Linked DNA regions of Homo sapiens: region 2 is linked to region 1. The links come from fine-mapping of genetic effects on gene expression. A gene starts in region 1. The other region holds a variant in brackets. All regions are shown on one strand. Distances are from middle to middle. Region 1 holds the start of NFKBIE (NFKB inhibitor epsilon). Region 2 overlaps SPATS1 (spermatogenesis associated serine rich 1).

Region 1 (5,372 bases):
GCGGTGGAAGGAGCCAGCTGACCGGCTGGTCACCATGGAAACCAGGCCTGTTTCCTGAAGATGAGCCTAGCTGGGGTGGGTGGAGGTGGGGAGTGGGGGCACAAAGGGAACCAGAAAACAACAGAGAGAAAGACGAGGGGCCCAGCCTCAGAGAAGACTGGAGCTGAGGAGGCGAGGTCAGGTCCCTAGCCATGCTGTGGCCTAAGTCAAAGTCCCCAGGTCACCCTTTCAGATAACACTGCAATGGTCCCCCTCCCCATTCCTGGAGTGTTGGAAAGGATTCCTGTCAAGAGTGCAAGCTCTGGTAGTGGGGCCAGTGGGTGACTCAATGCTGACCTCATGTGGCCATAAAAGGGACTGCCACACACCTGTTACGGCTCAGAGCCAAACACCTGGCTGGGTTAAGTGGGTTTTTCCTAAAATTCAGCCTCTGTATGAATAAAAAGGAGGTCCTTGCACACTCCTGAGTTCTTACATCCTTGCAGAGGGCTCAGACACTCCCACCCTATGTGGTTTACCTCTTGATAAAGAAAAGAAGGTTCCACTAAAAAATATGTAAAAGTTTTGGATTAGATGAGAAGCCATCTCTGCACTTTCTATTTTAACTTGAGCAAGTCAACTCACCTCTCTGGGCCTCAGTTTCCCAACATTAAAATGGGGATGATAGTGTCAGATTTCGTGTGGATTTTTTTGTTTTTGTTTTTGTTTTTAGACTGAGTCTCACTCTGTTGCCCAGGCTGGAGTGCAGTGGTGTGATCTCAGCTCACTGCAACCTCCACCCTCAAGTGATTCTCCTGCCTCAGCCTCCCAAGTAGCTGGGATTAATTACAGGCATGTGCCACCAGGCCCAGCTACTTTTTGTATTTTTAGTAGAGATGAGGTTTCGCCATGTTGGCCAGGCCAGTCTTGAACTCCTGACCTCAAATGATCCACCCACCTCAGCCTCTCAAAGTTTATAGGCGTGATTACAGGCGTGAGCCACCGCGCTCGGCCAAATTTTGAACCCAGTTGGTCTGGGTCTGGAGTTTATTACTATACTTTTGCTGCAGCCTTTGAGGACCGGAGAGGAACATGTCAGGGGAGGAGACTGAGAACATCTGAAATCATGCTGACTCAAGGGAAGGAGATGCTTCAATTTCCCAGGCCTTTCCCCTCGTGGCTCCTCACTGGGCTTCATGCTCATTACGTCTTTCCCACTCTGGTCCTACATGGGGTTGAAGAACAGTGGGCCATCTTCTCCCCTCAGCCCTCCCCCAACTCTTCTGCCTCCAATCGCCCCCCACAGACTAGGTCCTTCTCCTCTCCCTATCTCTCTTCCCTTCCCATTCTCAGTTCAAATGGAAGCTTCCTTGCCTCTCACCCCACTGAGTAGCTGGCCCCACTGTGTGCCCCCACAACACCCTGTTCTCACTTCTGTCTTATCCCAACCACTCTGAGCTGTAATTGCCAAGGAGCTTTTTTAGGACCATGGGATTTTTTTGTTGGTCATGGGGGGTGGTTATTGGTTATTACTGTGATAGTCAGTTTTGCTTCCAGTAGAAAGAACAACGTCAGACATTACAGGAGACCTTCCATACATGTTTGTCAAGTAGGTGAATGATGGATGAATAAAATGAGGTTGCAGGGGAAGGGCTGTGGGAAAGCTGGCCTCCCCCCTGCAAAACGTTGCTGTCTACACTCATCCACCTTCCTTTCTCCAATGCTGGAGATGGAAAAGCTACATGTTCCCTTGCGGATAACCCTCTAAGGGCATTGCTGGCGTTAGGCTGATAGCACTTGGAATAGTGGGGAGGAATGAGGGAATAAATCATGGAGCATGGGCTTAGGGCTCACTTGTAGTAGGGTGCTCCCACGGCCTTCCTAGGCCCAGGGACAGTGAAAGAGGAAAGATGTTTTGGGACTAAGATTGGGGCTGTGTTGGGGACCTGAGCAGAGTGCAACCCAGCATGTCTGGGGCCTCCCCAACCTGACCCCACTTCCTTGACTGCTGGGGTTGACCAGAAACTGTAACTACCCAAGGCCAGGGTTTCACCCTTTGAGGAAGAAGAAACTCCACAACCACTTTACTTTTTAGACAACAGTTTCCCTGAGAAGACGCTCTTTCCAAAAAAACATTTTCATGCCCAATTCCATGTGATGTGGGACGTTGACACAGGAGACTGTCTTCCAGGACCCAGGAGAACTGCTCCTTTAAAGATAATGGGAGTCCCCTTTCCCTACCCGTACCCCTGGGCACTGATAGGGAAAGATGAGAAAGCAAGAGAAATTGAGATAAATGGGCAGGGGATAGGAAGCAGTGCTTCCCCATCCCATCGCCTACATGCCCTCCCCCAAAGATGCCAGCTTGTACGGACAATTAATAGATATTTCTTTTAAAACAAATGAATGATCCGGGACCGGTGGCTCACAGCCTGTAATCCCAGCACTTTGGTAGTCCGAGGCAGGCAGATCGCTTGAACCCAGGAGTTCGAGACCAGCCTGGGCAACGTAGCGAGACCCCCGTCTCTACTTGTAGTCCCAGCTACTCGAAAGGCTGAGGCAGGAGAATCGCTTGAACCCAGGAGGCGGAGGTTGCAGTGAGCAGAGATCAACCACTGCACTCCAGCCTGGGCAACAGAGCAAGACTTCGTCTCAAAAAAATAAAAAATAAAAATAAAACAAATGAATTAAGAAATAGAAGTGAAAGAAGGAAACAGTACATGCGTGGAACTAATGAATGGAGTGAAGGAGGAAGGGGGAAAGAGTGAATGAATGAATGAATGAATGAGTGAATGAATCAACGAAGGAGTGAGTCAAGGCCCGGGAACCACAGACTCCAAGCCTACGCAGAGCCCGGGAAGGGGGATTCCGGAGGGGCGGGGCCTCTTTCCGGAAGCGCCCGCCGGGGGCGGGGAGGGGGCGGGGCCATCCGCGTGAGGCGACCCTGTTGGTCCGGAGGGGCGGGGCGAGGAGGAGGACCCGCTTGGGCGGTTCGGCTGCCCACAGTAACCGCTGGGTGGACCTGGCCAGCGCTCCGAACCTTGTCCTCGCTGCGCGCCGGCCCCTCGGAGCCCCACAGCCCGGGAAGGAGGCCGCCGCGGGCCGGGCGCCCGCTCTGCCAAGCGGACCCGCAACCCGGAAAGGCGGCGCGGCGGAGCCTGGAGCCGGATCCTGCTCAGACCGGGCCCCGGCCGGCCAGAGCCGCGGGCATGTCGGAGGCGCGGAAGGGGCCGGACGAGGCGGAGGAGAGCCAGTACGACTCTGGCATTGAGTCTCTGCGCTCTCTGCGCTCCCTACCCGAGTCCACCTCGGCTCCAGCCTCCGGGCCCTCGGACGGCAGCCCCCAGCCCTGCACCCATCCTCCGGGACCCGTCAAGGAACCACAGGAGAAGGAAGACGCGGATGGGGAGCGGGCTGATTCCACCTATGGCTCCTCCTCGCTCACCTACACCCTGTCCTTGCTGGGGGGCCCCGAGGCTGAGGACCCGGCCCCACGCCTGCCACTCCCCCACGTGGGGGCGCTGAGCCCTCAGCAGCTGGAAGCACTCACTTACATCTCCGAGGACGGAGACACGTGAGTATGGGGGCTAGGCTGAATCGGGATGCTAACTCTGGGCCTGCCCAAGAGCCGCAACAGGTCGGGCACCCCCACTCCCCCGTGAAGATCCTTCAAGTCCCCATTCGCTCTTCCAAACTCCAGACTTAACTCTCAGCCCACTTTTGAGGTCCAGCTAGGCCATGGAATCATCTCTGTCCTCCCATTTCGGGGTGGGCAGAGCTGGCAGGACCCTTAACCCAGCCAGCATCTTGGAAATCTACCAATAATCCACCCTTAGGAAGAGAAAATTCCCCTGACCAAGTCCAGTTTTTTTGTTTCTTCTTGCTGGGGAAGGGGACATCCTTATTTGCTCAATATCTGGGATTCCCAGTTCCTGACCTCAGAATGCTCTGTCTCAAGGAACAACAGGTGCCAGTTACAGGTTGCCAGTCGGGGCCAGGAAGCTAGGCATGGGGGGTGCCACCAGGGTGTAGGTTTGGGACTGGTCCTCAGGAGGATGGGGTGAGCCAGGCTGGGGCACTCTTGCCCCAGCAGACAGACAGGCGGCTGGCTGCCCCAGCTTACTTCCTCCTCTGCTAAGAAAGGGGAAGTGAGGGCTAGAGTCAGCGTCCCTGACATCCTCTACCTCCAGAGCCCCCAGTCCCACTAACTGTCGTGTCTCACTCCCTCACTTAACCCTTCCTCCTCCAGACCCAGATGGAGTTTGGTGGGAGTGGGCCAGAGGGCAGTTGAAGTAAAAGGCAGTTGTGTGGGATGGGTTGGCCAGTTGAGGATTTAGCCCCCCAGGAAGAAGAAAACATTGACAGAGGAGGGAAAGGTTGGGAACTGGGGATGAGAAATAGAGTTGGGGAGGGCTGGAATCCCTGGTCAAGGGTGCTCATATAAATAGGAGTAGGGGAGGCAGGAGGTGGCTGTCCTAACCTGCTTTTTGGAGATGCAGGGTCCTAATCCTGGGTGGCCATTGATAAAGACAGCTGGTGGACCCAGTGGGTGGGAGAGGAGTGACCCAGTCCTTTCTGTACTCTGCCTGGATCACCAGCCCTCAGGCCCAGAACCCCAAGGTTTTGGGGGCTGCACGCAAGATACCTCTGATGACCTTTGATCCAAGGAGAGGGGACTTTTGACATTGCCGTCTTTTGTTAGCCTCTCAGCCCCAGCCTTTTCCATCTCTAGTTAGAAGCAGGTGTTGTGTCCAGATTGGGTGTGTGTGTGGAGGGGAGAAATGTCCGGGCTCCCCAGCGAGTCCCCAGAGAGCAGGGGGCACTTTCCTCCCTCTGTTGGAGGTGTCTGGGCTGTGGGAGGTATGGAAGTGGGAAGAGGAAGTGGGAGGAGGGGATACTGGGGGAGAGAGGGAGGTGGCTGCAAGAATGTGACCCAGAGAGCAGGCCCTGGCCTAGGGGATTTCCAGAGCAGTTCCTCCCTCCCTCCGTCACTCTCCTGGGCCTCTCCTGCTGCCTGCTGCTAAAGCCTGCCACCCTCCTGCCCAAGCAGCCCCCTCCCCAGCCCAGACGGGCCTTTTAGCCAATCTACCCCCCTCACTAATGCCCCAAGGCAGCTGTCCCGGCCTAGACCCTCCATCACTGGCTTTCGTTTTCCCCACCTGACGTGGGGAAACCCCAAGACTGGAACTTCCCCTCCCAACTGCCCCCATTACCCCTAGATTAAGGTTCTTGGCCCCCTCAACAAATACATTTTCTGCACTACAAAGACCTCCTCTTGGAGGTGCACACAGGAATGGAGGGCCTCTGTTAGGCCCGACCTGGTCTGTGCTATCTGAGAGGTGCCTCTTGACTCCCAGGGAAGGGCAGCAGGACAGGATGCTGCACTGTCTCCT
Region 2 (5,372 bases), 100 kb before region 1:
CAGGAAGCAGGAAAATGTGACCCATAATCAGGAGAAAAATCAGTCAGTAGAAACACACCCAGAAATGACACAAATAATAGAATTAGCAAACAAAAATCTTTTTTTTTTTTTTTTGAGATGGAGTCTCACTCTGTCGCCAGGCTGGAGTGCAGTGGCGTGATCTTGGCTCACTTCAACCTTTGCCTCCCGGGTTCAAGTGATTCTCCTGCCTCAGCCTCCCAAGTAGCTGGGACTACAGGTGCGCGCCACCACACCCAGATAATTTTTGTGCTTTTAGTAGAGACAGGGTCTCACCATGTTGGCCAGGATGGTCTTGATCTCTTGACCTCAATCTGCCTGCCTCGGCCTCCCAAAGTGCTGTGGTTACAGGAGTGAGCCATCATGCCCGGCTGCAAACAAAAATCTTTTTTTTTTTTTTTTTTGAGACGGAGTCTCGCTGTGTCGCCCAGGCTGGAGTGCAGTGGCACCATCTCAGCTCACTGCAAGCTCTGCCTCCCAGGTTCACGCCATTCTCCTGCCTCAGCCTCCCGAGTAGCTGGGACCACAGGCGCCTGCCACCACGCCCAGCTAATTTTTTGTATTTTTAGTAGAGACAGGGTTTCACTGTGTTAGCCAGGATGGTCTCAATCTCCTGACCTCGTGATCCGCCAGCCTCAGCCTCCCAAAGTGCTGGGATTACAGGCATGAGCCACCGCGCCCAGCCCACAAACAAAAATCTTTAAACAGCTATTACTATGTCCAAGTATTTAAGGAAAACATGAAAATAGGAAAGAACAACAGATATAAAAAAGAATCAAATAGAATTTCTAAAGATCGAAATACATAATCACTGGATAGGACTAACAGCAAACTAGACGCTACAGAACAAAATAGAGAATCTAGGAAACAATAAATGCTAAATCCAGCAACAGAAGCCTTTGTCACTTCTGCCATGACTAACTGGTTAGTAGACTTTTTCATTAGGGTGACTGTCCCTGAGGAAAGGGTCCAAGTCTCACAATTGTCTTATTGACCATAGCACAGAGGAATATGCTGATCGACTTCTCTCTCTTTTTTTTTTTTTTAATTTGAGACAGGGTTTTGCTCTATCACCTAGGCTGGAGTGCATAGCACAATCGTAGCTCACTGCAGCCTCGAACTCATAGACTCAAGAAACCCTCCTGCCTCAGCCTCCCAAGTACCTAGGACTACAGTTGCATACCACTATGCCTGGCTAATTTTTAAAAAAAATATTTTGTAGAGATAGGGTCTCACTATGTTGCCCATGCTGGTCTCAATCTCTTGGCTTCAAGCAGTCCCCCTGCCTTGGCCTCCCAAAGTGCTGGGATTATAGGTGTGAGCCACTGCACCCAGCTAGCTTTGTACTTCAAGAAAAAAAAAAAAAAAACCTTTCTTTTTAGGAAAACCAGACTAATTGGTATTCTGGGGTTTATACATGTAAAAACATATTTGCATATGAAAGGTAATGTACAAAAGCTAAAATAGTAGAGTGATGAAATGTAGGCAATTGCTATTATTTGGAATATTCTAGAATAGTGTTTATTAAAAATGTAAAGTACAGACATGAGAAGCCCTAATCGTGTGCCATAAGTAACAATGCAACATAATAAAGACATTAAAATCTCAAGTTTGGAATAAAAGGTTTTTATTCCCACTGAGCTCCAGAGTGGGTTAGACCCTGGGACACATGCCCACTCATAGGAGACTGTTTTGTATTAGAAAGTAAAAAAAGAAAGAAAGAAAAGAAAATATCTCTTTATAGGTCAGAAACCTGCTTAGGTAAATAAGTGAGGTTCAGAATGGAGTGAAGCAAAAGTATGAAATTAAAGGAATGATATTTCCCTCAAACACAGAAGTGCTCTGTTAGCTTTCTTTCTGCCTCTTGAAACTCTAACCATTCTCGCCAGTTGCAATCATTTAAGTATGTGTCTTTTTTTCCCAACATACTCATGTTCTAGGAATCAGGAACCCTGTCTTTTTGTTCCATGTGAACTCTCCTATAGTGCATGGCTAGCACAACACATGGCATCTGGTAGTTTGTCAATTACATCTGTTGAATATGTGACCATCCCAATTGCAGACTCTACAGAATGTCTATCCAAACACCTTCCTTACAAACTGCCCCACCCTCCTGCTGGGATTCAAAAGGGCCCTGTGTCCTGGTTATCTACCTGCTCCTCCACATAAGGAAACAATAAAATAATCGATATTTAATAAAGATGGGATAACACAAAACATGACAAGAGAACTCACTTGGGAATTTGTGGAAGAGGCTCAAGTGGAATAAATGTATCAAATTTCTTTTCATAAGGCACTCTGAAAAACAGAAAAGGCAATCATAAAACTGGTATGCCATCTACAGCAAAGAGATCAATACATCATTGTATTCAATAGAATGTCCTGTTTTCCGATTTTAATTTTCAAGTATTGACTTCAAAACTGTAAGAACCGCAGATTTTATTTTATTTTATTTTATTTTATTTTATGTATGTTTTGAGACAGGGTCTCACTCTGTCCCCAAGGCTGGAGTGCAGTGGCACAATCTCAGCTCACTGCAGCCTCGACCTTTCAGGCTCAGGTGATCCTCCCACCTCAGCCTCCCAAGTAGCTGGGATTATAGGCACACACCACCATGCCCAGCTAATTTTTTGTATTTTTGTAGAGAAGGGGTTTCTCCATGTTGCCCAGGTAGGTCTGGAACGCCTGGGCTGAAGCAATCCTCCAGCCTCAGCCTCCCAAAGTGCTAGGATTACAGGCATGAGCCACTGTGCCTGGCCCACAGATTTTATATTATTTTATTTTATTTTATTTATTTTGAGATGGAGTCTTAACTCTGTCGCCCAGGCTAGAGTGTGGCGCTGCAATCTCGGCTCACTGCAACCTCCATCACCCAGGTTCAAATAATTCTCCTTCCTCAGCCTCCTGAGTAGCTGAGATTACAAGCATCTGCCACCGTGCCCAGCTAATTTTTGTATTTTTAGTAGACACGGGATTTTACCATGTTGGCCAGGCTGGTCTTGAACTCCTGACCTCAGGCGATCCACCCCACCCCACCCTTGGCCTCTCAAAGGGCTGGGGTTACAGGCGTGAGCCACCG[C/T]GCCCGGCCCACAGATTTTAGTTTTGATCATTTTTAGTCAACATCATTATATCCCACATGGTTAATTTTTTAAAATAATATTTTAAATGTAGTACACCAACTACCCAGCACTTTGGGAGGCCAAGGCGGGCGGATCACGAGGTCAGGAGATCAAGACCATCCTGGCTAACATGGTGAAACCCCGTCTCTACTGAAAATACAAAAAATTACCCAGGTGTGGTGGCGGGCACCTGTAGTCCCAGCTACTCGGGAGGCTGAGGCAGGAGAATGGCATGAACCCAGGAGGCAGAGCTTGCAGTGAGCTGAGATGGCACCACTGCACTCCAGCCAGGGCGACGGAGCGAGACTCCGTCTCAAAAAAAAAAAAAAAATGTAATACACCAACTATTTTTCTTTTAATGTAATGATCCTCCCACTTTTCTCCATCACTTTGGTCTAAGTTTATTTCCAAGTTTAAGTCCACCCACATAGTAGTCACTATGGCCAACAATCTGATTCAGTATGAAAATTTAAAAGTTTTCAAATCTGTGATAATAGAGATAGGAACAAAATTAACAACCACTTTTTTGTAGTCCAAGTCCTGTGTGTAATTTTAATTATACACATGCATGTGTGCAGACATTAATTAACTAAAGATGAGCTTTTCAAGGAATTTTCATCCAATCACATCTTGTTGACATCTATCCCTTTTAAAATATAATTTCTGTGTAGTAGAGAGACACAATTCCTTTAAAGTTAACTATATAATGCTAGTATTAACATACACTTACATTGAAAAATTCACTGGTGGGAGCATTGATCCTGCTTTGTGGAAGCCTTTACTCTGTTCTGGGTACATATATGGATTGTCGCCTGGAGTTAACTTTGGGATTCCATTCCTGGGATCAATATCTGTGGAGAAGGTTTGAAAACAAAATCATACAAGGGCTGAAGATGATCCACAGATTTGCTGTAAGTATTGGCATGACAATGGAAAGAGGATATTTTAGTATTTTATTATAAATTACATAGAAGTTTCTCAAAGTTCTGTTTGTGATTATCTTGCCTTAAGGAGATGAGCCTATATTTGGGACATTTTCCAAAAAGTGTTGTTGTAACTACCTCACCCTGGAAAAGAATTGTTAGATTCAGATGGAGTGTTTTGGTTTAAAATATAAGGTGAATCAGAGGTTTCTTTGCAATGATCCAAAAATCTCTGACCTAAAAATCTCTTCATTCCTGAGCATTAGTGCACTTTGAATCCCTGAGTCTTAGGAAGCCGAAGAAACAAGTGTCCCTGGGGCTCTGCCTCTCTGACTGGGTCCAGGAAGGAAACCAACTAAGGATGTCTTGCTCCTTCTGCCTCAAGGACTGGGGCCATGCAGCAGTGGGAGGTGGCTTCCTGGAGAAGAGCAAGATTACTCAGCAGAGGTTCTTACACCCAGCTCAGCCCCTGCTAAAGCCCTGGGAACAAGAAACTAATCACGGGAGTGGAAGGCATCAGCCTAGTGTAGGGTGATCATTTAAACCCACACACCTAAAGTCCTTAAAATTGCCTATTTAAAAAATTAAAATTTAAAATAAATAAATCAACCCACACACTTACACCAGATGCATCTCCTAAGAGAATAAGCCTGGACTACGAGACTCATCACCCTTGGGCTCAGAAGCAGGGACACGTGGCTGGAAGCATGACCTCCATCTTTGCCACACACCCAGATTCTTCTAGCTAACTCGGAAAAGCCATCAGCGTGACAGGTGGAAGTTCTTGGGTTACCAGAGTATTTACTTTTTTGTCTTTCTCTTTCAAAAACCTTTTCAATAACTGACTGTATTACACTTTTGATTAGCTCTTCTGTGTGGTGAAATAACATCAACTGCACCCATGCATTGAGTGCCTGCTGGGTATGAGATGCTGAGGATTCAAAGCAGAGAGAGTGGAGGTTTAAAATATATACTGAATCCCCTTGAGGCCAGGAGTTCTAGACCAGCCTGGCCAACACAGTGAAACCCTGTCTCTACTAAAAATACAAAAATTAGCTGGGTGTGGTGGCACACGCCAGTAATCCCAGTTACTCGGGAGGCTGAGACAGGAGAATCGCTTAAACCCGGGAGACGGAGGTTGCAGTAAGCCGAGATCATGCCACTGCACTCCAGCCTGGGAAATAGAATGAGACTCTGTCTCAACAATTTAATCAATTAATTAAATATACAGTGCATCTGAAACCTTTTGCATACCAAACCAGGGCACTGACAAGTAAGAGTTGGGTGACAAGAGGTGGTGGGAAGAGTTTGG

Evidence for each region. PIP is the estimated chance that this variant, and not a neighbour inherited with it, causes the effect.
Region 2: its variant is fine-mapped to the expression of NFKBIE in whole blood (INTERVAL, PIP above 0.99).

Annotation. Positions count from the first base shown.
Region 1 is chr6:44,263,163-44,268,534 of GRCh38, reverse strand. It overlaps NFKBIE (NFKB inhibitor epsilon), which reads left to right and starts at 2,984. Exons shown (of 6, transcript NM_004556.3): 1 at 2,984-3,553. The coding sequence starts at 3,189. RefSeq lists a silencer at 2,770-3,439 and enhancers at 3,358-3,857, 4,250-4,479, 4,780-4,829, 4,910-5,029, 5,040-5,289 and 1 more.
Region 2 is chr6:44,366,995-44,372,366 of GRCh38, reverse strand. SPATS1 (spermatogenesis associated serine rich 1) reads right to left here. Exons shown (of 9, transcript NM_001372081.1): 6 at 3,868-3,988; 7 at 2,254-2,316. Among named protein-coding and RNA genes, the nearest start is that of CDC5L, 18 kb to the left of the region's middle. The variant C/T (reference allele first, on the strand shown) is at 3,098.